Linked DNA regions of Homo sapiens: region 2 is linked to region 1. A link means that fine-mapping ties the variant in region 1 to the plasma level of a protein whose gene starts in the linked region. Region 1 holds a variant in brackets. A gene starts in the other region. All regions are shown on their reverse strands.

Region 1 (11,916 bases):
ATGAAATCTTTCTTCAATAATCAATTCAAGTGTCCCCAACTTCCTCAAGTGGCTAACTCTATCTCAAATTTACACATACATACCTCTGTTTATAACATTTAGCACAGTTTGAATTGAAGCTTTACTCAAAAATATGTATCTCCCAGAGGTCTTCTCCAGATTCCTTGAAAGCAGAGATCATGTGTCTTATTTATGTTTTATGCCCAGCATCTATCAGAGTGTCTTGCACATAGTAGGCATACTCAATAAATGATTATTGGATCAAACAGGTGTATACCTTCCTTCAACAAAGTTATTAAGCAACACCACAAACCAGTAAATTTTCTGGTTCTAGAAACTGTGAAGCTTCTTTGAAGACAAAAGAGTGAAAGAGCTTATATTCTCGGAGAGGGACAAACAAGTAAAATCTATATAGCATGTTAGATGGCAAGATATACACTAAGGTGAGAACTAAAGCAGGGAAGGGGAATATGCAGCGACAAGGAAGGTGCTGTTTGAACTACAGTGGTCAGAAAGGCCTCATTCATACGGTGACATCTAAGCCTAGACCTGAAGGCTGTGTATAGATCTGGGAAGAACAGAGAAACAGTGGGGAGGGCCGTGTGGTGACAGCAGAGTGATGAAAGGGCAAGAAGGGGAGGCAAGAGGGTAAGAGAGATAGCAGGTGGTCCAGGTCATGCAATGCTCTGTATCCAATGGTGAGGTCTGAGCATAAGAGGAAGTCTTCTAAAAGCCTTGCAGGAAGCCGGGTGCAGTGGCTCACACCTGTAATCCCAACACTCTGGAAGGCCGAGGCAGGGGGATCACCTGAGGTCAGGAGTTCGAGACCAGCCTGGCCAACATGGCAAAATAGTCTCTACTAAAAATACAAAAATTAGCCAGGTGTGGTGGGACATGCCTGTAATCCCATCTACTCGGGAGGCTGAGGCAAGAGAATCACTTGAACCCGGGAGGCGGAGGTTGCAGTGAGCTGAGATTGTGCCACTGCCCTCCAGCCTGGGTGACACAGCAAGACTCTGTCTAAAAAAAATGAATGAATGAATGAATGAATGAATGAATGAATGAATGAATAAATGGCTTGCAGGAGAGTAGTGCCAGGATTTGACCCACATTATAAAAGCATCACTCTGTTGAAAACAGGGTGTAGGGGCAAGAAAAGAAGCAGGGAGAACAGGTGGAGAACACTGAGGCAAGGGAGCACTGGGTAAGGGTGCTGACAGGTTGGGGGTGAGAAGCAGTCTGATTCGGAGCTGCTTTGAAGGTAGGAGCCAACAAGATTTGCCACTAGATTTGGATGTGGAGTGCCAGAGTGTCAAGAACAATCCTCAAGTACATGGCCTGAGCAGATGAAAGATAGATCTGCCATTAATTGAGATGGGGGAGACAGCAGGAGGAAGAGACTGGAGGGGAAGGATGGGATCTGAACACGCTGTCTTGGAGACACCCACTAGCCATGCAGGCAGAGGCACTGAGCAGGCAGCTGAGTAGATGAGTCTGGAATTCAGAAGAGAGGGCTGGGCTAGACACCCAAATTTAGGAGTCATTGATGTAAAGATGGAATTAAAGTCATGAGACCAGATGAAAGAGATCACCAAGAAACTGAGTGAATGGGTCTATGCTCTGTTTTACTCAGAATTCCTTGGCACCAAGGTGTGTTTCAGAATTCAGAATATTTCAGACTTTGGAAATAATATGATTTATTACATAACATTCCCAGCAAGATCTTGGAAGAAACATTTCTGTGGCAAAAAAAAATATGAATATTCACACTAAGTTGGGATAAAAGCTAGAAATAGCCTCCTGCTACTTTAGGTCAGGTTTTTCCACTGAATAATTTCAGGTCAAGTTAGGTCTTGCTGTCAAATATGTTATTAAAAAATATTTTAAAGAATTTTTGAATATGGGTGTTACAGAGCATGGATTTTGGACTGGTAGAAGGAAGAAATGAGAAAAGAAAAAAAAGGACAGATATCAGCCAGTGAGGCAGGGGGAACTCCCAAAGAGAGGAGTAACCCCAGAAGTCAAGAGGAAAGAAGTTTCAAGGAGAAAGGGAGGGGCTGGGTGCAGTGGCTCATGCCTATAATCCCAACATTTTGGGAGGCTGAGGTGGGAGGATCACTTGAGGCCAAGACCAGCCCAGGCAACAAAGTGAGACCTCCACGAAAATTTTAAAGTGTAGCCAGGCAAGGTGATGCGCACCTGTAGTCCCTACTACTTGGAAGGCTGAAGAAGGAAGATGGCTTGCCCCCAGCAGTTGGAGGCTGCAGTGAGCTATGATTGCACCGTAGAACTCTAGCCTGGGCAACAGACCAAGACCCTGTCTCTTTAAAAGAGAGAGAGAGAGAGAGAGAAAGAGGTCCAATCGTGTCAAATGTGTCAAAAGAATAAGGATGAGAATTGGATTTGGGACATGACACACACTGGAAACCTTGAGAGCCAGCCCAACCACAGCAGCTAGAGGAACCCAACTGAATAGGGAGCATTTCTCAAACTAAACAGACAAAAGTTGAAAAATCATGAGATTTTTAACTGAACCACGAGTTAAAATTTCTAAAAGAAACTGTGCCCCCACGTGAGATCCAGATTAAATCTATTCAATCAAAAAATATATAAATATATACAAAACACATTTATGCATATTCCAAAACCTATCAGCCTGATAGTCAAGAAGATATCCCTGGAACCTTATTTCTTTGGATACTTATTTAAAATTAAATTCTTTGGCTATAGGATTAGAGAGTCTAGGAGCTAAAAAAGGCAGGGGTGGGCGTCTCATAGCTCTCTGATGAATCAGTTTGAAGCAGCGAAATTATTCCTCTCCTTTCCTGACACCTGCTGCAGGGAGTAGCTTCAGCAACACAATGTGGGTTGGCACGGCCTGAGAGGGTATAATTAGAAAACGAAAGAGCCAAAAGTTAATTACTGTTAGATAGGGGAAAAAACACAATCTTGCTGTGAAGAAATCAGATATAGCTTAGCCCAGGAATCACATACCCTCCTTTAAGTACACAACAAATAATATAAAATCAGGCTTTAAAGTAAAACAAAACAGGAGTAGAGTCAGAAAAAAGTACTTGTTACGCAGATCTATTAGTTGCAACTCCAATGAGACAGCGACATCATGAGCTAATGGTGAATAGACTGTTATAATAACTGAAGATTGTAGATGTTGAATTATAGTTGACTTCCAAATATAATTGTATCTTTTAATATAAAACTCCAGGTAAAAAGACCATTTTTGTAACAGAATGAATACTGTGCTTCAGAGTACTGTGGGCTGGATTGAACATCAAACTAATATAGCTATGGGATGTGAGGGCGATTGGCTGCAACATCTGTTAACCCACTGATTGCCAGGGTTGATTCAGCTGATCTGGCTGGGCTAAGTGGGTGTCCCCTTCCTCCCTCACCGCTCCATGTGTGTCCCTCTCGAAGCCGCACGCTTGGTCGAAGAGGATGACCATCCACGATAGAGGAGGACCAGTCTTTGGTCAAGGGTATACAAGCAGCTGCACTCCCCTGCTAGAACTTCCAAACAAGCTCTCAAACTAATATAGCTAGGGAAATT[C/T]TGAATATACAAAAGTCTGAGGCTTATTAGTGAAGATATAGTATGTTCGAAAAGAAATAATAAATGTATAAGAAATAGCAGGTAATTTTTACTATGGCTGAATTGCTTGGTTTCAAGTTAATTTTAGCAGAAGGAGCAATCTCAATATAACCATTTATATACCTTAACTATGATGATTAATTATAACTAATTTTAACTGCTAAGAATAACCATGTGACCATGTATACAGCTTTCTAACATCTAATGAATCTTTGAATCAGAGTTCTATGTCCATTATTCTTTTCTCTACGAGCTGTTCCATTATAAATGATAGCAATTACTTTTTGACGAACTGCTGCTACTCTGAACAACTTAATTATGCAGAATCTTCATGGCATTATTTCTTACAAGAGAAGAGATGTGCCCTAAACTAGCACCCTTCAGTTGCTTTAAATAACTACAAGGGATCAAAGAAAGGAACAATTAGCAGTAAGTTACAGGGACTAAACAGGTGAATACAGAAACATCTTAAAGTTTAAAGAAGAGTTATGTCAATCAACAGAGTCAATGGAAACTTTTCAGAAACTTCTTTGCTCTTGCTTTTGTAAATCTTAATTGGCACTTAGTCCACTGCTTTGCACAAAAGTTCTCAGCAGTCGTGAATGCCAAATATGTTTCCTGGCCATGCGCCCATGCCAGTGGAGGGTAAGATATACCCACAATTCTGAACATCTTCAGAAGGCAAATCAAAGAATGGATACTACATTTCCCACTACATATACTAACACTGGAACTGGCCTCTGAAAATCAGGTGACTGATTTTTTTTCAATTTTTCAATTTTTTTTCTTAAGACAGGGTCTCACTATCACCCACGCTGGAGTGCAGTGGCACAATCATGGCTCACTGTAGCCTCAACCTCCCCACAGGTGACCCTCCCACCTCAGCCTCCTAAGTAGCAGGGAACACAGGCACGCGACGACACACCTGGTTAACTTTTCTATTTTTGTAGAGACAGGGTTTTGCCACATTGCCCAGGCTTTTTTTTTTTTTCCCAAATTTTTAAGCCTATAGAAGGACTTCCAGGGACATGAAAGGAAAGGGAAATGATAAAGAACTTCAAATAGCATAGTCTGCCCTATCTACCTTTGAAATAAGCAACTCTTCACTCTCCTATTACTTTTCCTAAATAACCTACAGGCTCTTAAAAACAGACCTAAAATACCACTCCACCATCCCAGTGTAACCTTATCAGTCAACAGAGGGCTATGGAGAATTGCCTAATGTGTAAAGAATGCCACGGGGAGTTATGGGCCACATCCCTCGTGTTTTACAAATTATCCTCTACATAATCCAACTGTGTTCCTATTTCATTTAGTTTATATTCTTCTAGTTTTTTTCCTATGTACATAAGTACTCATTTTTAAAATACAGGTGTCATTTTTAAAAATAACACTTTATATGCATCAGTGAACATTCCTACACACATTCCTGATTTTATGCATAGAACAAATTCTTTGACATAAATTTTGGGGCCAAAAAGTTTGTGAATTTTTAAATTTCTTAATACATACTACCAAATCTGCCTTTCAAAAATGTTTTATCAATTAATATTTCTACCAACAGAATATGAAAGTGTTTTTTCCCAATCCTTAAATTAACCTCTGGGTATAGGTTTTAATAACTGCCAACATTTAAATAGGTGAAATTAGAATTTTATTCTTATTTGTGTTTTGTAAACTGCCTGATAATGACAGTTTCCCACTTTTCTACTGTGAAGGAATGTTCAATTTTTTTCCTTTTAACTGTAAGAGTTTTGAAAATATACCATAGATATTATGCATTTGCCATAAATATGTTCCTATTTCCAAAAATATGAGTGCCAAGCGCAGAATAATATGGGAACTTAGCTCAATACACAATGCCACACACAAAATATTATATTAAATCACTTAAGTAAAAAGACTTTGTAATCAAACATAGGAAACTACTTATGTGACTCATATATTTGTATTACTATAATAATAAGAAAAATAATTGCCTCATTGTTCATTGGAAAATCGCTATCATTGTGATCTATATGTAAAAATTCCAATACACAAATCACATTCTGAAAAGTTTATATCTACTGTTTAGGCCTTTCCAGGCTCTCCATATAAGCAGAAAAAACCACTGCTACTGGTTGTCAGTTTCTTCTTTTAGAGAACAAAGAAGTGTTTTAAACTAGAGGCTTCTGAGTCTTCTTCTAGTTCTAACATTTTCAAAGTCTATGAGAGGGCTTCATGCTAATAAGGCTAATATGCTGAAAGGGCCTTACCAATATTAAGTTTCAAAGGCAAGAAATAGCCTAAGCTATGAGCCACAGTTCATATTACATGAAATGGTTGAGAAGCTCAAAATACCGAAATGACAGATAGTACTTTGGTTAACAGAGAAATGGTTTTATCCTGAGATTGCTGCTAATACAGAACTCCATTGTATTAATATATACAATAGTTAAGATGTGACACTGGAAACCTCTGATATGACTTTTGGCAATTAAAAGATGCAAGAGATTAGAACAAGCAAGCTGAACACAAGTGCAAGCTTACCTGGAATATTACCACGCGGAATTTGTTTTTCTTCATTATTTCCTCTTGCTTGACTTCAACTTTTTTAACATGAATTTGTTGCTTCTCCACCCGGGCTTTCACATCTTTAATGTGAGCACTAACTTTTCGGGTTTTCTCAAACAATTTGTTAATGATATGCCCTGTATTGCTATGCGACTGTGAAAGCTTCAACAGGTCAATCTGGACGGATTTTATGGCATTTTCCATTTCCCTGTGTCTCTCTTCTATTCTCTTCTGGCTTGCCTGCACACTGTCCACGATGGAGGCTACTTTGTCCAGCACAGTCACAATGGTAAGAGCAGCGTCTTGGTCTTCATCTTCTGTAACACTCGACAGGCGATTCTGGTGGATTTTATCAGCATTTGAAGCAGACCCATTATGTTCCATTTTATTTATTTCTCAGCGTAAGATGTCCTAACCACAATCAATTCTGGCACTTGGAGCAAAAAGTCAGCTTGATAACAGGCAACAGGGTTGTTTAAAGAGTTGGAAACCCCACCCCTAGAGAACGGTCAAGTATTTATAACTACAAATACCCATATGTGACTGTTCTGCAATCTGAACCCTTGCAAAGCACCGGGGACTGTTCCAAACATGCTTGCTGACTGACTAAGGGACTCAAATAAGACTGTGTGGGTAGAAGAGTAAAGCTTTTTAAAAAAGTTCACTAAAGCCACCATGTAACTAATATTAAACCTAGAAGCCAAATGATCAAAAAAGCAAACTCCAAATGTTGGGTAAAGCTTTTGCCTTTAGATAATTTCAATCAGTATTTGTAACAGTAAAGGGGAATTCTGAACCGAAATCTGCTTTTTCTACTAATTTCACATATTAAATATACTGAAACACCAATATCAAAAAATTTGGTAAATAAACACACCAAAACAGAGGCCATATAGTGAAAACATTATATTATAACATGCTTTTCCAAACAAAATATTAAAATTAATAATTTTTAACATATTCTTTAAATTCTACATGCATACTTTTGAATATCTAAACTACATGTTAAACAGCTGAATACATTCTACTCACACTTCAGATCTTTAAACACCAACAATCTATGAATATTAATCTATTACTACAGGACAAATTTGGATATACGTCTTGGATAAATTTTAAGCTCACTTTAAGAGCACCAATCATTAACAATCATTTTTGTATTTTATTCACAAACACTGATACGATTTGTTTATTTATGTTAAAACAAACATTTTCTTTAAAAATGAATGTGTATTAAAGTAGTTTAACTGGTAGAATAGGCTTTATTCCAATCTGTTTGTTAAACAGCCTATTTTCACAATATCTATATCTACTTTTCATTGATCTGTTCCATCATTACTAACATATTTGTTCAAATTATTAGGACTATTTTTTCAAAGGGAGGAATAATCAAATTCCCCAGTCCATATATCTTATAAATATTTTACACCTAATACACACAGCTTTACAGTTCATGCGATAGGCAGTGTCTAAAAAATCAGTTACTAAATCTCAAAAACATTTAAATATCTATTTAAACACAGTGTCTTCTAGATTTTTTTTGTAAGAAAAGTAATCTGTAAACATCTTTACCTTTAGTTCATGCTTGGTCATTTGCTGTGGTCATTGTGGAAGAAGTGGATATGACTTTATAACCATTTGTGAAGTAGTCCATCTTTGCAAAAATATTACATTCCATGGGTAAAGAACAAGTCTTAGAATTACCATGTGGTACAAATTTGTGAAAGCAATTTCTGTATTTAAAAACATAAAACAAAGACTACTAAACAGTCCAAAACTGTCGTAGCTGAATATTCTAAATACGAGCCAACAGTACTACACTAAAAATGTCCAAAAATAAGGCCTCTGAAATAAATATTTCCATTCTTTAAAAAAAGACATAATAAATGTACATCACATGGTCAGTGTACATATAAAAGTCATCAGTTTAAACCATTCTGGATGACGTATCTGAAGTAAAATGACCTAGGTTTTGCTTCTGTCGACGTCCTCTATTGTTTTTGGGGCATTTTCTGTTGCATTAAAAAAAGAAAGAGAGAAAAATATTGTTTTGATGATTTTGTTCAGGATATTTCAAATGTTTCCAAAGTAATACACATTTTGCACATAAAGCCACATTGCAAGCAATTACATGAAAGGGAAATGAGATGGTATCTGTTGCAAGACAAGATGAAGATGAACACAATTCAGACTGCTACCTCCTCTACAAACCTGGAAGTTGAGAGGATTAGATATGTAATATAGGTACTGGCACAAGCAAAACTCATTACCAGTGTCTATGCTACTATGTATGCATCCCTGACAGATATCCCACCCTTCCTCCAGCCTAGAAACTCCCTAGTCACAGTGACTGATAACATGAAACCCCTGACAGGAGAAAGGACTCTGGCCTATGTACTTTCCCTGTGCATTATGAGAAGACAGCTCTAAAATGACAAGAAGAGCTTAGATGAAGGGAGAAATCAGGAAGAAGTGTGCTTATTAACCTCAGCTATGAATACATAGGAATGTCTACTGATTTTAGACAATGACTCAAAAGAAGCTGTCCACACCCTCCTGGGGCAAACCACAGAAGCCCATAAGGAACTGCCACACTGAGGATAAGGGACATTCTTTAACTCTGCTCTCATTTTACCACGTTTCTCAACAGCAGTACAAATCTCACTGGGTTGGAACTGCTCTTGTGCCTGCACACTAGATTGCAAACACAAGATGCTGTGCTATGCAATGTGGAGTAAGGGGGCTAAGACGAATTCTGGGCTCTGCTAATAACTAACTGTGCAACCTCAATTCTCCTATATGTAAAAAATAAATTAGGAGTTGGACTAGCTTCCAAAATCTCTGCCAGCAAGAAATTTACAACCTAATGGAAAGAAAGTCTTATAACAATGAGTACTCCTCATTTCGTTCGATTTCAAAGAGTACAGCTTTGCCTTGACTAAAAGTGTTGACAATACTTCCATTTTGTATATGGTTTTACCTCACTAATCCTCATTTTAAAAGTGTGAGGTAGACAGAGTTGGAATCATCTCCATTTCATAAATGAGAAAACTAGCTGACAGATCAAGCAACCCTCTTGTACTGTCACTAACTCACCATGACCTTGGAAAAATTCCAATTTCCTAGTGCCATGGTTTTTAAATCCATAAAATCAGGGCGTTTAGTTAAGGTGATGTTCAAGGTTCCTGACAATCTGTCATTCTATGAGTCTGAAAATATGAAAGGCGATTCCAAGAAGAAGAAAAAAAGAAAAATTGACTCATGCAGTCTTGATAAACAGGTCAGTGGGAACATCCTTTTAAAGAAGATTCCTCCCATGTGACAGCCGCCACGGTATATGTCAACAGCTGTCTCATAATGGACTGTGTGGGAGAGATACTTAAAAACTCAATGGAAATAAATCCAAGTACATAAATGTTCTAAATCCAAGATAGCAAGACATTCTAGGGGAGGAAATACCATAATAAAAAGACAGGCCTCCAGGAGAAATCTGTGATAAATTCAATGAGATGACTCTTCAATCGTAGAGACAGTGGGCAGTAAAGACACTGTGACATAGTTAGAAATACACTGTGATGTCTAAGTGGCTGTGAGGGCAACAAGGAGGGATCTGGAGTATAAACTAGAGGGTACCTACTTCAAAACTGCCTGCCAGGTAATTTTAATTGAGTAGTTGAGCATTATAGCACTGAAAGAGTTGGGTAAAAGACTGTTGTAAGGGGGCTTTCCTAGCTCTAGGACCTTAGACCAAGGTACTTCTTATCTCAGGGCTTCAGTTTCCCAACTTCTCTAAATGAAGGGGTTGAACTCAGAATTGTTTCTCATTGACTCTGACATCCTTTGATCCTCTTAAAAATGGCACTATCTGGCTGGGCACAATCCCAGCACTTTGCGAGACCGAGGCAGGTGGATCACTTGAGCCTAGGAGTTGAAGACCAGCCTCGGCAACATGGCCAAACCCAGTCTCTACAAAAAAAAAAATACAAAAATTAGCAAGGCATGGTGGCGCATGCCTGTAGTCTCAGCTACTCGGGAGGTTGAGATAAGCCCAGGAGGTGGAGGTTGCAATGATCCAAGATCATGCCACTGCACTCCAGCCTGAATGACAGAGTGAGACCCTGTCTCAAATAAAGGCACTATCTCCAGGCCTCAAACATCTCCCCTTACTTTACCTTAATTTTCCTTCTGCCTTCCAAATCATTCATTACCTCACTCCTATTTAACTCTAATAATGACTTAAATGGTCTTCCCCCTACCTCATATGTTCACTACTCCAATGAATTTTTCAGATGACTCATTAATACTCTGAAAAATATGGTTTATACCAAGTCCTTCCCCTGCTCAAAAACCCTAAACTGCTACAAAATCAAGTTTGAACCCTGCTCCCATGCAATGGTCATACTGGGCAAACATGTTTCCCAAGATGACTCAACATGGAACCTTTCAGTGTAAAGAATGAATGGGAATCAAACTGAATCCAAATCCAGACAATTCCACTTACTAGTCGGATGACCACAGACAAATTACTTAACCTCTGAGTCTATATTAAATGGCTACAGCCAGTCATGCTGTTAAATGTGTTTTCCCTATCTTCTCTTTCTGTTATCATTATTTGTTACATGATTATGTCCCTACTTTGATCTACCGTCCAATTTTATATTCAGTAGTCTTGCCTAAGGGCAGATCATCTGTTCTGTGAAATAAAGCGCACTGACTTTCATGCCTAGGTGTTATGAAAAATATCTGTTACTTGGAGAACCTTTTCTTTTTTATCATTTCTAGATTTATCATCTCAGCTCCAGATGGCTGAGACTACTGAAGGTCTGGCTTCTATCCAGACCTTGGATAGAAGGGCCACAAATCCATTATGGCCTGCCAATATCTGTATTTGATATGCTTCAACCCTCTGCCCAGAATAATGCAGGGAAGTGGAGAAATGATGCTTATGAGACTTCTGAACTGAAGCTTAAAGAAAGAGGTAAGCAGGAAGAAAAGCATTAGACTGGGAAGCACAAAGACAACACGAACTTGCTGGATTTACTCTGACTTTTCTCAGGCCCAGTTCAGTCTGACTTATGTATTTCTACTCAGTTTAGAAAAGACCCATTTTATGCCACTGCACTCCAAATAAGTCATTTAATTTATGACGAATAATTTTATTTATAATACAGAATTTTAAAGCTTATTACTTATCGCTGCAATCCTGAAAATGAAGTAATGTTAACACCATGATATCACAATAAAACTATCTTCAGCCTCTGATTTCTTCCTTTCTTACTATACTAACTGTGAGTAAAGTACGTTCTTAGGGCACAGAACCCCTTGCAGTTGTGCAGGGCTTAAAAATCTTCTGCATGGATCTCCTATGCATGTGCAGATCATTCTAGAAATTCTGAGCCAGTCAGGGTGGTTCACGCCTATAGTCTCAGCTACTCTGGAGGACCACTTGAGCCCAGGAATTTGAGGCTGCAATGAGCTCTAATTGCTACTGCACTCCAGCCTGGGCAACAGAGTGAGGCCCTGTCTCTTAAAAAAAAAAAAAAAAGATTGCTACTAACATTATTTTCCCAGAATACAGTGTTCAAAGACTGTATACAGTTCTCAGATCCCTAAATTCCTTTATCTCATTGACTATTCTCATTCCCTCTCTGCTTGTCGCCCAGATATACCTGTAAGACTGGGAATTAGTCCCTGCCCGTATCCTAAAGAAGAAGGATAGGGAGAGACCACTGAAAACCTCAGGGAACTGATCATAA
Region 2 (11,916 bases), not on the chromosome of region 1:
TGGGTTCAAGCGATTCTCCAGCCTCAGCCTCCTGAGTAGCTGAGACTACAGGAGTGCACCACCATGCCTGGCTAATTTTTGTATTTTTAGTAGAGACAGGGTTTCACCATGTTGGCCAGGCTGGCCTTGAACTCCTGACCTCAAGTGATCCTCCCTCCTCAGCCTCCCAAAGTGCTGGGATTACAGGCGTGAGCCACTGCGCCTGGCCAGTGCTCCCTTTTTCAGTCCTCATAGTGACATTTGAGGTAGGTTATTCTTTTCAAAATTTCCATTTTACAGATTTAAAAAAAAGCGCCCTTGGAAAGTTATGCCACTTTTCCTGGATCACAATATTAAAAGATCACAATTCATCTTCTAATAATTTGGCAAGCCATCCATGGTCTTCTAAGCAAGGCGCCATGAATATAACGAATATAGAGACAGAAAAAGACCCCTCCCCACTGGCTGGGTTGAGGGACTGGAGAGCCCAGATGGAAGGGCAGAGGTGCAGGCTTTTTTCCTTGTTGCCACTAGATGGCAGTAGGGCACCCGTTGTCAGCCCTGGGGCAAGGTCACCGACTGTCTTTGCCTTTGCCTCCAGCAAGCCAAAACCCTGGGCAGACTCAATCCAAAAATAAACAATCAAAGAGCATGTTGGCCTGGTCCTTTGCTAGGTACTGTAGAGCAGGTGAGAGAGTGAGGGGGAAGGACTCCAAATTAGACCAGTTCTTAGCCATGAAGCAGAGACTCTGAAGCCAGACTACCTGGGTCCCAATCTTGGGCTTGGTATTTCCTCGCTGTGTGACTCTGGGTAAGTTACTTAACTTCTCTGTGCCTCAGTTCTCTCAAGTGTAAAGTGACGCTTGTAAAAGTGTCTCCTGCAAAAGAAAGGGCTGCTGGGAGGAGGGGTGTCCCTGGTGTGCACTAAGTACAATATGAGTTTGTGGCTTTTATATTCCTGCCTCTGAGGCACTCACAGGGTAGAAATGGGGAGAAGCCAGTCCAGACAGGTGCACCCCAAAGCAAGAGAGATGAGAAGGCTGCACCCATGCTGGAGCCAGAGTGGGGAAGAGGGCACATCTGCTGGGAATGGGTAGAGCGGGGTGGGAGGAGTCCTGGCAGGGGAGCCGTTCCTATGCAATGGGCCTTGAAGGAAGGGGAGGATGGGTGGATGTGGGGTTAGGTGACTGTGGAGGCGGGGCTGGTCTCTGTCCAGGTGACAGGTGGATGGTGGAGCTGGAGGAGCCACTCGGAGCCTCCAAGGCTGGGGAGGGTGGAGGGGGGAGGCAGGTCGGTGTCCCAGGCCACACCTGTTGACTAAGGGATTAGGATGTTGTGTCCCTGCCAGCCCTCCTCCAATAAGCCCCTCTGGGCCTGCAGGGAGAGGAGGAGCCTTGCCATGTAAACTGTATTTTTAGTTCCCTGTGCCTCTCCCCGGCTGCTATAAGACACCTCTCCCCACCCCCAGCCCTGGCCGCTTGGCTGGAGGCTCTGCGAGGACAGCTGGGGAGAAGGGGAGCTGTGGTCAGTATGATGGATGCTGAGGGGCTGGAGAGGAGCAGCCCTGGTGGGTGGGTTCCTGGGAGTCTGGAGCAAGCTTGGGGGTTCTGCTGCCCCATCAAGGGCCTTGAGCAGGTCCTGCAACTCCCAGGCCTCAGCCCTGCTCTGAGCCCTGGCCTGGCGCTGGTCCAGGAGGGTAGACTCTGCCAGGGAGGCACAAGCTAAGCTGGGGGTGGGGTGGGAGGGCCTGCTGGCAGGAGGGAGGCACTGCCCAGACTGGCCTCCAAAGGCTGGTTCCCAGAAGGAGGAGGAAGAGAGTAGTGAAGATCGTGGGGAGTCCTGGCTTTGAGGAGCCAGAGTTCTCCTTCTTGCCACATCTTTGATCTCCCTTGGTGGTGTCTTAAGCCCAGATTTACCAAAGGGAATTGTCAGCTGTCCAAGGGCTAGCAAATTCCTAGGTCACCTAGATTGGATTTTCTGACCATAAAAACTGTGGGCCAGGTGCACAGCTGCCTGAGGGGCTCAAACCTGTGCAGGTGGGTGCTGGAATCCCCTTTGCTATAGCGTTCTCTTTGTGTGCATGTGACCAGAGGTGAGAGTGGCTGGAGACCGAAGATGGCAGAGCCCGTCTTTCTCCACCAGACTGAGGCCCCCGACTTGCCTTGCCTGGGGAGGGTGCTCAGTGGAAGTCCTGGGATGTTCAGTCTGGACAAGAAAAGTCTTGGGTGAGCCTGCTCCTTCTCTTGTGAGGCAGACTCAGCTGGGCCTCTATATCCCCAAGGAGCAGGCGGAGCTGCCGCAAGGAAGTGCACGTGACATGGAGGCATCTTTTGGTTCGACATAAAAAAGGATTTTTAAAGCTTTAGGTAGTGAGCTCACCACTCCCAGGAGTATTCAAGCAGATGCCAGATGATGATCTGTAGGGAAAACTATGTTTAGTGGGAAATTGGACAAAATACCGTTGAAGGCCTCTTTTAGTCACAAGATACTATGGCCCTATAATTCTAGATTTCTCTGCTTCTAGCTCTCTATAAGTCTGGAATCTAGAACCCAAGTTTCTCCGGTGCTGAAAAGTTGAAGACTTTGACACTCTAGAATTTTAATTCTGGGATCTCAAGATTCCAGAATTGGGAGCCTTGAGGATGATTCTACAAGTCTCAGTTTTGGATTCAAAGGATCCTGTGATATGAAAGGGAAAAAGAGGAGGTCTGACTTGGTGGGATCCAGTTTTGCCCCACTGGGTATCAGACTAATGTGCCCTGCATTCGTGCGTGTGTGTGCGTGTGTGTAGCATGAGCGTGTAAGGCTGTAGAAAGTTTTGCACACAAAGGCAGCCTGGCTTTCCTATCATGTGTCTGCAGCTTCTCTGCCCTGGCCATAATGAAGGCTGTCACAGGGATAATAATAGCCCCCAAACAGAGCTGGTGACTCCAGGTAGCCATAGCAACTGTGAGGTAACGCTGCTCTGTTGTAGAGATGTGTGAGTACAAACAGATGTCGGTGCCTTCCCATTAGCTTAAATGGTAAAACTTAAAAGGTCCATCAACTTCAAAGCTACAGGTTTCCATGAGCATGCCAGTTAATGGGGGCGCTTGCCAAGCGGGTGATAGCTTCATATTAAACATTTCAGCATCAGTAATGGGTTGATGAGATTTTAAATGCTCAGGCCATCCCCAGACAACTCAGGAGGCCAGAGACGGGAGAAGAGCTGGGATTCGGGTAGTAATCAGCCCTGCCCTGCCCCGCACCCTCAGGGGTGTTCTGACACTCTCGGGAGGGCACAGGCCAGAGAGCATTTGAAAACCGCACATTGCGTCTCAATCTCCAGGAGTCTCAGATCTGCCTCTTGGCCTTCCCCAGCGCACCAGGCAGGGGGCCCCAGGTCAGATGTGGCACAGCTCAATGCCATCTCCTTCTTTCTGCCCTCCTCTCTCACACCCTGGACTCACCTCCAGCGAGTGACCAGCAGTAAGGGTCAAACTGCTGAGAGTCTGAGACCGGGGCAGACCCTCTCAGAGTTGTCTTTCCTTCTGAGGCTGGGCCTGGCACAGACTGGGGCCTCAGTAATGGGCTTTCAAATGAATGAATGAACAAAGGAACAAACAGATGACTGACTGACTGAATGAATGAATGAGATCCCCTTTGGCATCCCCATGGCTTCTTTTTTTCTTTTTGAGATGGAGGCTCGCTCTGTTGCCAGGCTGGAGTACAGCGATCTCGGCTCACTGCAACCTCTGCCTCCCGGGTTCAAGTGATTCTCCTGCCTCAGCCTCCCAAGTAGCTGGGACTACAGGTTCGTGCCACCATGCCCAGCTAATTTTTGTATTTTTAGTAGAGACAGGGCTTGAACATGTTAGCCAGGATAGTCTCGATCTCTTGACCTTGTGATCCACCCACCTCAGCCTCCCAAATTGCTGGGATTACAGGCGTGAGCCACCACGCCCGGCCCCCCATGGCATTTTAGCTACTTATTTTGTTACTGCTTCTTCCACTGCTAAAGAGATGGGCCTTTGGAGGTCGGCTGGCCTAGCATTTGGGGTTGACTTCTGGAATGGTCACTAGGGAAGGGGCGCCAGAGGTGCAGCCGGTGCCTCTGACCCTTTTGGTCGCTAGGAGTCAGCCGACTCAGTACACAGGACTCACTGAATGGAGACACAAGGCTCCTCCAGGGAGTGGCGGCTCATGGCAATCCTAGAATGGTCACCAGCCAGGCTTTAGAGACCCACACAGAGGGCGTTCTGACCCAAAGTTGCACTGGGGAACTCCAAGTTTGGGGATTCTTTGAATTTAACTCTTTTTCTAGCTACATTTCCTATTATTTGTCCAATTCTTACCAAACATCTCTGTTCACATTCTGAAGCTGGGATCTGACTGGCAGAGCTAGTAGATGCTGACTATTCAGATGGAGCCCTGACATTGGCTTTCTCAGCTTGGCTGTGACTGGCAGCAGGTTTGCGGGAGAACTGTGTGTCCCAGAACATGACTGGCTACACCTGCACCTCAGCAAGATTGGGGCAGGGCAGTTATCTTCAAAAAGCTGTGTAGGTGGGGCAGTCATTACTGACAAATCCAGTGCAGACCCAGGATGGCCCAAACACTGGCTTATCCTTTCTGAATCTCATCTCCCACAGCTGTAAAGCGGGGTGGTGCTCGCTACCTCACAGAGGTGTTGTAAAGATTAGATGTAATCTTGCCAAGCAGCCACTTTGTAAACTGTATAGTCTTATGCAGATGGAAGGAAGGGCCTGTGCCTACCTTGATCATAGCACTAAACAAACTGTACTGTATTTTCATTCCTCTTAGTTATCTCCCTAAAAAGACTCTGAGTTCCTTGAACACAGGAAGGTGTTTTATTTGATTTTGTTATCCTCAGCATGTAGCAGTGTCTGACACACAGTAGGTGCTCTATCACTGTGAGAGGGATGGATGGATGGGTGGAGTTACAGATGGATAGAAGGATAGATGGAGGGATGGGTGGATGATGGATGGATAGATGGATGGAGGGGGGATGATGAATGGAGGGATAATGAGTGGATGAATGAGGGAATGGGTGGATGGATGGATGGAGGGATGGAGGAACAGATAGATAGATGGAGGGATGGGTGGGTGATGGATGGATAGATGGATGGAGGGAGGGATGATGAATGGAGGGATAATGAATGGATGAATGAGGGGATGGGTGGATGGATGAATGGAGGGATGATGGGTGGATGAATGAATTGAGGGATGGATGGATGAACACATGGATGGATGGATAGATGGATAGATGGAGGAACTGGTGGATTTTGGATGGATGGGTGGATGGATAGATGAATGAATGCCTGGATAGACAAAGAGATGATGGATAGATGAATAGATGAATTAAGGGATGTCGGATAGATGGAGGGATTGATAGATGTTGGATGGATGGGTGGTGGATGGATAGATGAGTGAATGCATGGATAGACAAAGAGATGATGGATGGATGAATTAAGGGATGACAGATGGATGGATGGATGAGTAACTGGATGGACAAGTGGATAAATGGATAGATGGTTGAATACCTGAATGGATTGAAGGAGGATGCATGGATGTAAGATAAGGCTAATCATCCTCCACTCTCTTTCTTTGCAAAACCATCCACCCATTTACTCAATAAACATTTATTCAGTTCAAACTTGGCACAAAGCACCATGTGAGGCCCAAGAGATACGTGGGTTAATAAAACAGAGCTCCTGCCCTCCTGAAAACTGCAAAGAAAGGGGCGTGGCTTCCTGAGTTCAAATCCCAACTCTGCCAGCGACTAGTTGTACATCAGTGATGTTTCCCTACTTTCTCTCAATTAAATAGGGATAATGTCAGTACCTATCACATTGGGAGGTCTTGCGGGGATTAAATGAGTTACCAAATGCCAAGTGTTTGGGACAGGGCCTGGCACCCAGCAAAGTCTCTTGTGAGTGCTGGCTGCTATTATCCTAATGGAGAAGATGGCATGAAAACCAGGAAATAGGATGCCCTTTGGGAAGCAATGCAACAGGAACTTACACAAAGAAAGGAAAGGAGGAAGCAATTAGTGGTGTCTCAAAGGAGTATGTCAAGAAAAACTTTTCAGAGGGAAACCTTTGAGCAGGGTCATGAAAACAGGAGTTCTCTAAGAGATTGTGGACTTGCCTGGGACCACCTGGCTATAAGCACAAAACCATCCGGTTCCTTTCTGTCACTTCTGGCTGGGTGAGGGGTCTCTGGCAAAGGGGCAGAAGGTGCGTGAGAGGTTGCGAATGGCCAGGACTGTCCTGGGGCCAGCCGGGGCACCTGGTGGCCAAGCTTAGAAACATGACAGGTCCTCTTGGGAGGGCTGACCGCAGGGAGCGTTGGGTTTCAGGCTGCTGGCGTCGGCTTCTGTGGTGCCCTTTCTGTCGGCTATGAGAGTCCAGACAGTGCCCAACCTCCTCCCCTTCTTTCCACACGCACAACCACCCCACCCCCTGTGGCCTGAGCTGTCCTGCCTCGCCACAATGGCACCTGCCCTAAAATAGCTTCCCATGTGAGGGCTAGAGAAAGGAAAAGATTAGACCCTCCCTGGATGAGAGAGAGAAAGTGAAGGAGGGCAGGGGAGGGGGACAGCGAGCCATTGAGCGATCTTTGTCAAGCATCCCAGAAGGTATAAAAACGCCCTTGGGACCAGGCAGCCTCAAACCCCAGCTGTTGGGGCCAGGACACCCAGTGAGCCCATACTTGCTCTTTTTGTCTTCTTCAGACTGCGCCATGGGGCTCAGCGACGGGGAATGGCAGTTGGTGCTGAACGTCTGGGGGAAGGTGGAGGCTGACATCCCAGGCCATGGGCAGGAAGTCCTCATCAGGTAAAAGGAAGAGATTCCATTGCCCCTGCCACCCACACCCTAAGATCAAGGGTGTTCAGCTGCAAGGTGGAAAGTTTGCACGTGGGGTAGGTCAGTTGGCTGCATTAGTTAAGGGTGTTAGAACGGTCACTTGCTTTTTCTTTGCTTTTAAGTGTCAGGGATTGGACTCAGGAGAGGGAAAGGAGCCATTTCAGGCTGATGTCAGCAGCTGGAGGAAGCATGAGAATCAAACCTAGGATGCTCAGAGTCCACCAGGAAGAATTTTAGAATTATAGACAGTCAGAGTTAACAAGGGTCCTGAGAGATTTTGTACAGCCACCTCTCTTACAGGATGAGGACAAAAAGGGACTGAGAAGGGGAGGACATTTCCAGAGTCACAGCTCATTAAATGCTCTTAAAGTGTCAAGGTTAAGACATGCTCTTCAAGGGGAGACAGATCTGGTTCTAGACTTGGCTCTGCCACTGAGCCACTGGGTGACCTTTGGGAAAGTACTCAACCTCTCGGAGCCTCAATTTCCTCTCCTGTACAGTGAGGGGATATCCTAATATCTATATCCTAGAGGAGATGTGAGAATTAAATAAAATAATGCATGCAAGAGGCCTGGCATGGTTCCTGGCATATACTGAGTCCTAGAAATGTTAGTAGCTATTACTGATGAAGCCCAGGCTAGGGACCTTTCAAAGCATTGCAATTAGAGAACAGAAGATAGAGGCTCATTAGTGACCTTCGATGTTGAGTATGTCTCTAGTTTGAGAGGTCTGAATGATGTGGTCTGCAAGTATATCCTGCCTTCTACCACAAGGGATTCCAGAATACACCAAAGAAAACAAAATTCTGAGGTTTGTAAATAGAGGGTGGCTGTGGTTTGTACATAGAAGCTCATCTCCTCGTTGCCTTCTATCCCAAAGGTGATACACTCTTCTCTTGGCCCCTTCCCTCACCATTCTGAGCTGGTTCCCTCAGAAGTCTAATAGGTTAAGAATCAACGTTTCTGCCAACGGGAGGAAGGAAGTGGGCGCCGGGGTTGCCACAAGTGAATGGATTGTCTTTGGCACTTTAATTTGCAGATTAATTTCTCCTTATTTGTGAGCCAGAGCCAATTTTCCTCTTCCACTCCGTCGTCCTTTGGGTCTCCCTTGGGCTTTACCCATTTCCAGCTTCCGTCTACCTCGGGAGCATGGCTGGTCCTGGAAGCTCCGTTATCTAAAATTTGAGCCGTTGGTGATCCGTGCTAGAAACACTTGAGGAAGAAGAGTTGAGTTTTCTGTTGACTGTAATGGCATCGTAGTGTGTTTATGTCTTTCTTCTCCTGTCCCTGTCATCTGGCTGCAACAGGCCCTGTTGGATTGCACAAAGTGCTCCCCCGACCAACACACACACACAAATTGACATCAACTCCTGGGCCACAGATATGCCATGTGACCTTGGACAAGTCTCTCCACCTCTGGGCCTTATTTCTCTGCTGGTTGAGCGAAGGGATTGTCTTCCATGGTCTCCGAGATCCCGTCCCACGCTCATGCCCTAGAATTCTCTGAGTCCTTGATGCACTTTTGCCTTTGGCGAGGAGGCAGGACAGTCAGGCGTGGAGGTAGGAGACCAGAGTTTGCAGAGCAGAGGTCTTTCCAAGGTGATTTGGGAGCTGCCAGACCTAAGGCAGTGACTTGTACGTCTTGAAAGAGACTCAGGGTGTTGCATCATCAGGGAGGATCACGGAGGTTTGCCGGGGGCCGGGAGCCAGGGATAAGACATAATGCCTAGGGTTGCTGGTCCCTGAAAGGTCCCAGAGGCCTGGTGCCCTGTCACGTCTTAGGTTGTGGGACATGCAGAGACTGTGCCAGCTGGTTCTGCCCTCTCAGTATTTGGGGTACAGGGAGGATGGCCTCCCTGGGGGCAGGGTGGAGGAGGCTCATGCCCAGGACTGCAAATGCCACCCGTGAGAGTTGGCATCTTGACTTTGTTCTAGATACTGACTCTGGATTTTCTAACTGACCTTGAAAGGTTATGTCTCCAATCTTCTGATTGTAAAAGAGGGCAAATTCCATGAAGCCCAGTCTGTAAAACACTGAGGCCTTCACTGCACGTACACAAACATAAAATTCTAGAACACAGAAGCTGGAAGGTCACTTGGAGATTCTGGCTCCAGGAGTGGGGCTTCGGAAGGGAGGGGGCTGCTGAGTGGGCTCCACACCCCTGTTTTTCCTTTCTTTACTCAAACCTTTTTTGTTTTATTTACTTTGGCTGTTTTGGGGAGCGGGGGGAACAAAGGATTTCAAGGTCATAAAATGTTTGAAAATCACCAGTGGTGGTCACTACTTCTCATTACAGGGAGGAACTGGGCCTGAGAGTCTCCACCGGTTAATGGCAGCCACAGGCAGGACCAAAAATTCCTGGGTGATGGTGATGATAATGATAATGATAATGATAATGGTAGAGATGATGAGGAGGAGAAAGACAGCAACCATTTATTCAGCACATACTGATTGCTGGGCTCTGTTTAAGTGTTTCACTCACTGAAGCCTGACAACAATCTTATGAGGTAGATATGATTATGATCACCACATTTAACAGAGAGGTTAAGTAACTTACGCCAAGTCACACAGCAAGTAAGAAAGGAGCTGGAATTCAAATTCAGGCAGCTTGGATCCAGAATCCTTGCTCCTTTTTTTTTTTTTTGAGATGGAGTCTTGCTGGGATTACAGGTGCATGCCACCATGCCTGGCTAATTTTTGTATTTTTAGTAGAGACTAGGTTTCGCCATGTTGGCCAGGCTGGTCTCGAACTCCTGACCTCAGGTGATCTGCCCGCCTTGGCCTCCCAAAGTGCTGGGATTACAAGCCAATGAGCCCGGCCCAGAATCCTTGCTCTTGACCACTATGCTATACTGCCCCATGACCTTGCCACACGCAAGACGGGCTGCCACCCACGCTCTGGTTCTTTTATTCTAGTAGAGCCAGAGGGGTGTTCATGGATCTGACAATGTGCTCCATGTTCCATGTGAGTGTCCAATTGGGCCTCAGTTCAGAGAACAGCAGGAAAATGGCCTCCCTTCTCTCTGACTTGGACTGAAGATCTGTCTGATGAACCAGGCCCACTGACAGCAGGGTTGAAGCTGGAAACACAGGCCAGCGGGGCTTTCTGAAATACTAGAGCAAACGCCCTCCGTCCATTTCCACAGGCTGAGGGGCTTTCATCTGTTCATTTTCCGGATCAGGCAAATCCAGGAGAATGGCCTTCTGTGGCTGCCTGGGGGGCTCCTAGCTGCAAGGCCTGGGCCCACAGGAGGCAGGCAGCTGTGTGGTGCCGGAATGATCTTGCGGGGAGACAAATTAGCCCGATTCTGCTCTGCTGTTTAAAGTAAATATGGGGTGGGGTGGGGTGGCTCAGGCCTATAATCCCAGCACTTTGGGAGGCAGGATCGGGGAATCGCTTGAGTCCAGGAGTTCGAGACCAGCCTGAGCCACATAGTGAGACCCCCCTTCTCTACAAAAAATAAACAAAATTAGCTGGGCGTGGTGGTGTGTGCCTGTAGTCCCAGCTACGCGGGAGGCTGAGGTAGGAGGATCACTTGGGCCCAGGAGATTGAGGCTCCAGTGAGCCAAGATCACACCACTGCACTCCAGCCTGGGCAACAGAGCAATACCGTGTCTCAAAAAAATATTAATAAAGTAAATATGAGCTCTCTCCCTGGCTGTCTGGTGTTGAGTGGAAAGAAAGGCATTGGCGGGTCTAGACCCTTTTGGTTTACATATGGATGAGCAATGATCCAGAGAGGCTAAGTGACTTCAACATCACAGAGCACATTGGCGCCAGAACTGGGACCGGAACTCAGCTTCCGTAACTGTCAGTCCCATGTTCTCTTCCCTAGATATCAGAGGGCAGGGGCAGGCCCCAAAATGTCTGAGACCCCCAGCTGCCTTGTGGCCCAAATTCTTGGCCCTGCTCTGCCTCAGACAGTCTGCTTTCAGCGTCCTGACCTCTGACCATCGCCTGTGCATGCCAGGTCTTGCATCTGTCAGGCGGGAGTTCAAGGATCATTGTCGCCAGATAATAATAGTCAGGAGCTCAGGGACCCTTGGATGAAAGGTGTCAGAGACAAGCCGTCAGTGACGCACGAGGATTTGGATAAGGTCCTGGAGCGAGGTGGCAATGTTGGGCACGGCGGCAGACCATGCCCAACATGGGGGAAGGGAGTGTATGTGGTTCAGGCTTGTGCGTGTCTCTGTGTGTGTGTGCAGGTGAGTATGGCGTGTGCTGGGATATATTTATGTGTACCTCTGTGTGAGTGTGCAGGCCCATATGTGAGTGTGCACACACATCTGTGAGAGCCTGCATGCATGTACACGTGTGAGGTGTTGATACATGTCCATGTAGGTATCAGTTTGCCTGTAAATATCTCTGTGTAACAATAACAAAGTCCGAATAGTCATCAAGAGTATAGACATGAAGCCAGACTGCCTGGGTTAAATCCCCAGCTAGTTAGTCTTTCGGTGCCTCTGTTTCTTCCTCTGCAAAATGGCGTCTACCCCATCAGGATTTTAAAATCAGTTAATATGGCTGGGCGCCTGTAATCCCAGCACTTTGGGAGGCTGAGGCAGGCGGATCACAAGGTCAGGAGATCGAGACCATCCTGCCTAACATGGAGAATTCTGAGAATTGCTCAAACCCAGGAGGTGGAGGTTGCGGTGAGCAGAGATTGCACCACTGCACTCCAGCCTGGGCAACAGAGCCAGATTCCATCTCAAAAAAGAAAAACAAAAAACAAAAAAACCATGAACTCATTTTCAGGTTGAGGAGCTCAGCATCCTGGTTGTGAAATACCCTCCTCATAAAACCCTGGGATGGAGACTACGGGGATCAGGTGCTTCCTTGTGACAACTTCTGGGCATGGTGGCTCAGGGCGCAAACTGGAGTGTGGCCACAATACATACTGTGTACTTTTACAAGGATGTCACAGAGCCTGGGTATCATAAAAGAGGAGCTTTTCAAGGAACTGAAACCATTAGACAGGAGAGAGAGCCCTGGGCAGACAGGGTTGCCCGTGCCAAACATTTCAGCTGTGGCACAAGGGAAAGGGTGGGAGTTATGAAACTGTTCCAT

Direction of the effects. Positions count from the first base shown, and alleles are read on the strand shown. Strength reflects both the effect of a copy and how common the allele is.
For the plasma level of the protein whose gene starts at base 6,652 in region 2, C is the low allele of the variant in region 1 and T is the other (weak association).

The links. A credible set is the group of variants that fine-mapping cannot tell apart. PIP is the chance, under the fine-mapping model, that this variant and not a neighbour inherited with it causes the effect. The UK Biobank Pharma Proteomics Project read protein levels with antibody pairs (Olink). The fine-mapping took linkage between variants from a reference panel, not from the people measured, so its PIPs are less certain.
Region 2: it holds the start of MB, and the variant in region 1 is the best candidate, but not a certain one, in a credible set for the plasma level of the MB protein (UK Biobank, PIP 0.59).

The regions. Positions count from the first base shown.
Region 1 is chr9:100,572,772-100,584,687 of GRCh38, reverse strand. MSANTD3-TMEFF1 (MSANTD3-TMEFF1 readthrough) reads right to left here. Exons shown (of 10, transcript NM_001198812.1): 10 at 7,052-8,172. The coding sequence ends at 8,088. TMEFF1 (transmembrane protein with EGF like and two follistatin like domains 1) reads right to left here. Exons shown (of 10, transcript NM_003692.5): 10 at 7,052-8,172. The coding sequence ends at 8,088. CAVIN4 (caveolae associated protein 4) reads right to left here and starts at 6,609. Exons shown (of 2, transcript NM_001018116.2): 1 at 6,137-6,609. The coding sequence starts at 6,544. It also overlaps the pseudogene RN7SKP87. The variant C/T (reference allele first, on the strand shown) is at 3,569.
Region 2 is chr22:35,612,065-35,623,980 of GRCh38, reverse strand. MB (myoglobin) reads left to right here and starts at 6,652. Exons shown (of 3, transcript NM_005368.3): 1 at 6,652-6,818. The coding sequence starts at 6,724. RefSeq lists enhancers at 445-739, 1,398-1,913 and a silencer at 11,892-11,916.